2 separate regions of the Homo sapiens genome follow, and region 2 is linked to region 1. Evidence: fine-mapped expression QTL. A gene starts in region 1. The other region holds a variant in brackets. All regions are shown on one strand. Distances are from middle to middle. Region 1 holds the start of GNB1L (G protein subunit beta 1 like). Region 2 overlaps GNB1L (G protein subunit beta 1 like).

The links. PIP is the estimated chance that this variant, and not a neighbour inherited with it, causes the effect.
Region 2: its variant is fine-mapped to the expression of GNB1L in whole blood (TOPMed, PIP above 0.99).

Annotation. Positions count from the first base shown.
Region 1 is chr22:19,853,482-19,856,375 of GRCh38, reverse strand. GNB1L (G protein subunit beta 1 like) reads left to right here and starts at 1,502. Exons shown (of 8, transcript NM_053004.3): 1 at 1,502-1,556; 2 at 1,837-1,933. RTL10 (retrotransposon Gag like 10) reads left to right here and starts at 1,502. Exons shown (of 3, transcript NM_024627.6): 1 at 1,502-1,716; 2 at 1,837-1,933. It overlaps LOC124905080 (a long non-coding RNA gene), which reads right to left and starts at 1,404. Exons shown (of 2, transcript XR_007068005.1): 1 at 664-1,404. RefSeq lists enhancers at 492-971, 2,394-2,894.
Region 2 is chr22:19,787,376-19,790,269 of GRCh38, reverse strand. It overlaps GNB1L (G protein subunit beta 1 like), which reads left to right. Exons shown (of 8, transcript NM_053004.3): 8 at 1,310-2,894. The coding sequence ends at 1,561. Among named protein-coding and RNA genes, the nearest start is that of TBX1, 28 kb to the right of the region's middle. The variant C/T (reference allele first, on the strand shown) is at 1,428.

The sequences.
Region 1 (2,894 bases):
AAAAAATTTGGACCAAAAAAGGCCTTTTCTGGCTCAGTTGGATTCATTTCTTCCACAGGCCCACTGCCCACTCTGCTGATGGGCGCTGAGCTGTAGACTGAGCTGCCTTGAGGCTGAGGTAAGCTGAATTTGTGGGAACCCCCACCTTTCCCTTGAGGGAGGAAGTTTAAATTATCAGGTCAATTAGGAAAGATACAACCGAAAAAAATCCAAATTTCATTCCCACTTCAAGGAGGCGTTTCCTGGCTCGGTGCCACTTTTATTATTTTTGGCCCAGGCTGCTGAAAGCCCCACAGACCCAGGGAAGGTACAATGTGACCTTTGATTCGCGTTTCAGGGATCAAAGTGAGTGAGTTTGGGTGTAAATGCAGATAACATTTCAGAGAGCTTTCATGAAAGGAGTCACTGGACCAGGGCAGAAAGGGAGCTGGTGTGTTACGTGTGTGTTCCCCTTGAGAAGCGTCACTTTCCGGTGAATCCGGCTGCCTGCCCGTGGCCCCAAGGACTCCTGGCTTGCATCCAGGTCCTTGGCCCACAGGCATCAGATCCTGAGCTGGGGCGCCTGCACCCTCTCCCACCTCTTCTCTAGGCACCGTGAAGCCGAGGAGAGGTGGCGTGGGACGGCTTGTGCAAGTGAGAAGAGCACCACCACTTCATCCTCACCTATCTTGTCCCAGGATCTGGGTGCTGACTCGGCAGGCTTGGGCTGGGCACGGCCCTGTGGGGAGGGCTTGGTAGCCTGCCCTCGCTGTCGTCTCCGGGTCCAGCCTCGGCCTGAGTCGGGAAGCACACAATTATATCCACAACAAGGAGGCCCAGAGGCCCTGCCTGCAGCCCCCAGGTATGCAGGTAGAGGGTCCTCTCGGACTGCCTGCCCCCTGCCTCTGGCGCCCAGCCTGCAGCTACGTCGAACCGGGCCCTAACAAGGTTCCCCGCACTGGCAATGAGTGATGAGAGGCACTCCGCGGGCACGCCGTTCCAGGGCGCTCACGAGGCCCAGCAGCCCCGCTATGCCCACATCCACCCCGACACCTGCAGCCCCCCAGGCTTAGCCCGGCCCCGCAGCAGCCCTCTCGACGCCCAGCAGCACCCCAGTGTCTGGCTGACGCCAGGGCAGTAACGGCGGGCTGAAGCAGCATCGGCCCCTCGGTCTACGCCACAGCCGGGTGCAGATTTCCCGGATCTGAGGGACCGCCGGGCACCGTCCGCTGGGGATCATGAGGGGCAGCTTTGGCCCGACCGTCTCGCGCCTGTACACGCGGCCCCACCTGATCCCGTGGCACTTGGCGCGGCGTGGGAATGGGCGCGCTCTCCCATCACCCACCGCGCGGCACTGCCGCGCCAGCAGGGACCGGGAGAGCCTGCGAGGTAGCGGCCACACGGCATACAGCGCAGGCGCGGCCTGGATGGGAGGAGCGCGTGGAGCGTGCCGGGAGCATGCGCCGGGTCGTACACGGCGGCCGCGCGCACGCTGGGGGCGTGGCTGCGCGATGTAATCGGTCTCTGGACGCTGCGCGGCGCTCCTAGGAGCAGGCGTTCCCGACTCCGGCAAGAGGGTCAGTGTGGAGGCGGGAGCCCGGGCGGCCGGCTTGAACTCCGTGCACGCGGGCCTGGAGCTGCGCCCCTGCGTCTTTTCCCGACTTCTGATCCGCAGAGGGGCACTCGGAGCCCCAGCCTGGGTCGCAGTGCCTTCGGTCTGCGGGCCTCAGTTTCTCGGTCCGCGCCGGGGGTTTGTGGGGGCACCTGGAGACATTTGGGCCGTTCTCGCAGTCTCGGGAAGCCGCGCCCGCTCCTTGCCTGGCCTCACGGCGGCCGATCTCGTTCTCCACTTTCTAGGTGGCGCCTGGACTCTCGCCCTCAGAGGGAGGCCCGTCCCACGGTCTGTGGCTACGGATCCCAGGACCCTCTTCGCGGGCGATTCGCGTAGCCTCAGGTGGGTGGGCTTCTTGTTGCCGTGGGCCTTGTGAGCTCGTATTTCCTGCATGGCGGTTGCTGGGGGGCGGGCGGTGCAGTCGTCTGCACTCAGCTTGCTTTAAGGCTTTGGGCAGGTTTTGTTCTTGGGGCTCCTGGGTCTCCCCAGAGCAGAGAACGGCTCCAGCGTTCCAGGTGCTGCCTTTGGCCTTGTGGGGGCAAACACACATGCGCCGTGGTACCTGCCCCTTTAGGATAGTGCTGTCCAGTCTAGAAGGGCCGAAAGTCTTCTATGCCAGGCAGTGTGGGGAGAAAAGTAGGGGGACCAACAGACTGATAGGCGTGGGAGGGCTAAGGTTCTCAAAATGGTGAGAGTGCGGCCCAGGGTTAGGAAGGCTCAGGCCCAAAGCAGGCCTGGCTGGCTGGTGCAGGGAAGCCTTCTCCCAGACTGCAGGGGACACAGGTGCGCAGGTGAGTGGGCAGGGTAGGGGACTGGGAAGAAGGGAAGGCAGAGATCTGGGTAGCACACTGTGGCTCCCGGGCATGGGGTGTGGTCATTGTGGGCAACCTGGATACCTAACCTTGGCTGGTGGTGGGAGCTGGGCCCTGGATCGGGGTCACTGCTTTTTTAGAGCTCAGTGAGGGACTGGACTGGACTCGACTCACGTCCAGGCCTTAGTATAATCCTGCAGTAAGGTGGGAAGCCAGGGTCATGGGCTGGGCTTTCAGGTGAAGACCCCCCCCCCAGAGGGGGGTCAGACCTGAGGGATTCCAGAGTGTTTGGGTGGTGGAGGTAGGGCCAGTGGCCCTGGCAGGTTCTAGTGCTGCAGGCCACCCTGGGAGGTACCTGGAGGAACTCACCCTGAGGGGGGATGGCCAGCAGATAGGAGATGTGGGATGAAGGTGTGTGCAGGCCTTGTGCTCCCAGTGAGCCGGTGGCGTTTGTGTGTGGGGTGAAGCAGAGAGTTTCCTGGAGGTCGTGA
Region 2 (2,894 bases), 66 kb after region 1:
CGGTTCCATAGCCGTAATCCCCATATTGTCTTAGAGCTGATCCTATAGGCAAGTGGGTCCAGTGCTCCCTGCCAGACCATTTGCTGCAGTTCTCCAGTTATCTCTTACGAGACTGGAGTTAATCTTCTAGTCTTTCAAGAACAGCTTATGGGTGCAGGATTCTCTGAGTTCTTACATGTTCAGAAATGTTGGTCTGTTGTTTTTATAATTGAGCGACAGTTTGGCTGGATATAAAATACTTGGACCTCGCCTTCCTCCTCAGCCTTGCAGGCATCACCCCGTCATCCCTTGGCACCCTGTGGCTGTGGAGCATTCTGAGGACGGCCTAAACAGCACCCTCATCAACATGGTCTTTTTGTCTGGCCACCAAAGGTTTTTTAGCTATGAAGTCTAATAATTTTATTAGAGCGTATCTTTTTTTTTTTTTTTTTTTGAGACAGGGTCTCACTCTGTCGCCCAGGCAGGAGTGCGGTGGCAGTGATCTCAGCTCACTGCAGCCTCCATCCACTGGGCTCAGGTGATCCTCCTCCCGAGTAGTTGGGATTACAGGCACATGCCACCACCCCCTGGCCCCAACGCTCGGCCCAGGAAGAGGCCAGCACCCCGACGGCCCCGTGCACGTAGGACCTGTCTGTGTGGCTCCGGGTCTCGTGCAGTGCCCTACCCCCTCTCAGAACCCAGCCGGGGACGTTGCCCCCACCAGGCAAGGTACACTGTGTGGCTCCTGCCGCCTCCAGGGCGTCTCCCCCTTGTCCCCCCCTCATCCTGCCAACCCCCCACTGGGTCTTGCTCTTGGCAGCGCTCCCAGCCCTGTCGAGCTTGGGGGTTCACATACCTCATGGTTTTGCTGAAAATGGAGTTTGTATTTCTCACCCTCGTCAGCTTTGGGGTGGTTGTGAGGTTCTTCTGGGAGGAGTGCCAGCATTCTGCTGCCATCAAGCCCGGGACGTGGCCTCTCGCTAGGCACTAGGGTGCAGTGGCTTCCCTGGGGTGAGGGGTCCCGGGACCCAGCCCCTCTCCTGCAGCTGGGACCTCCCTGTCTCTGCTGCTCTCTGACTGGGGAAGGAGTCGGTCAGAGCTGGTGCGAGGAGCAGCAGGGCAGGGCCGAAGACCACTCTGAGGGGAGGGCTGGAGTCCCCCATCGTGGCCTTAGGAAGAGTGGGAGGTCAGCTGGGTAGGAGCGTGTGGCCCTCACATCCCGGGCCTGTGGGCCTGCGTCTCTCCTGGTTCCAGCTGCAGGTGGGGCACCAGGGGCAGCACTGCCTTGTGGGCTTAAGGAGTGGCCTAACACCTCTCCCAACTCTCACAGGTGCGTGGGACTCATGAACTCACCAATCCCGGGATCGCCGAGGTCACGATCCGGCCAGATCGCAAGATCCTGGCCACCGCAGGCTGGGACCACCGCATCCGCGTGTTCCACTGGCGGA[C/T]GATGCAGCCACTGGCCGTGCTGGCCTTCCACAGCGCCGCTGTCCAGTGCGTGGCCTTCACCGCCGATGGCTTGCTGGCCGCGGGCTCCAAGGATCAGCGGATCAGCCTCTGGTCACTCTACCCACGCGCATGACTCACCCACTCCCTTCCCGGGAGACGAGGAGGGCGGGCAGGGAGGTGGGCATCAGGCCCCAGCCTTGGCCTGAAACCTCAAGGGCCTCTGAGGACCAGCAAGTCATGGCCCAAGGACCATGGAGTCCCCGCTGTCTTCATGAGGTTGGTATTTCCTTTTGTGGAGTGCCTCATCACAGGACGGTGACTCTGGGGGCCAGCCAGAGCCCTGGCCGTCCGAGGCCTGCAGGAGACGTTGGCTTGGGCCTGCTGTGTTGCCAGCTGAGGGTATTTTATAATAAATTTCCATTGCCAAGTTGCAGGCTTGAGGTGGGAGCTCCCTGAGGAGGCCCTGGTCCCCCACTTAGCATCAGTGCCCTCAGACCCCCACCAGGCAGGATGCTCAGCCCCACCCTCACACCTGCTGTTGAATGGGCCACCCCGAGTGTGGGTTTCCTGGGCCAGGCCTCAGGAGATGATAGGCCCCAACCATAGCTGCGTCGATGTCCACATGACCCCTCACCCCGAGGAGGCCAGGAGCTCCCAACACACAGGTTGAGGCCAGGATCAGGATCAGGAAGTAACTGAACTCCCTAAAGAGTGAAGCAGAGAAAGGTGCCTGTGAGGGACGGCAAGGGGGGCTTGCAGCGCACAGGGCCAGGCCAGATGTGGGATCCGGGAGGGCACGCCTGCCCGCAGAGGGTGCAGTGGGGAAGGCGCACAGGGTGCACCTCCAGGTGAGTGCTGGGCAGAAGGCACGAGAGCAGCAAGGGAGTGTGACAAGCACCGCCTCACAGTGGCCAAGGCCACAGTCACAGCTGCGGCTGCACACAGGGTGGCCCCCAGGGCACAACACAGCAAGAGCAGGACTTAGCAGCCAGAGCCTCACACTGCATGCAGCCGGGCCCAGCCTGGCCGGTCGTCTCCTCCTAAAAGCGGGTGTTGATTGGGAAAGAACCATGACCCTGAATATTGGAGTGGGGCCCATGGGCAGATCCAGAGAAGCTGGGACCACACACGCCTGTGTCTGCCCGGATTGCCGGAAGAGCCCCTCTAGCTGAAGGCCCGGGGTGGCCTCCCTTGAGGCAGTTGCCCTGCAAGGCCCTGCCGATGCTCCTTGGGACCCCCACCTGGGCTTCTAGTCCTAGAACTAGACTCGAGTCCAGCAGACCCCCAGGATGAGATACAGAGGGTGACCCTGAGAGTGGCACCAGCCTCCTGCAGGACCACATGGCATTTCCAGGTTTCCAGGCAGAAATCTGAACATGTGTGGGACGGATCGGAAGGGTGTGGGATCCAGGTGGCCGGAGCAGGGGTGGATCAGGGGAGTTCCCGGAACAGACCTGCCAAACGGA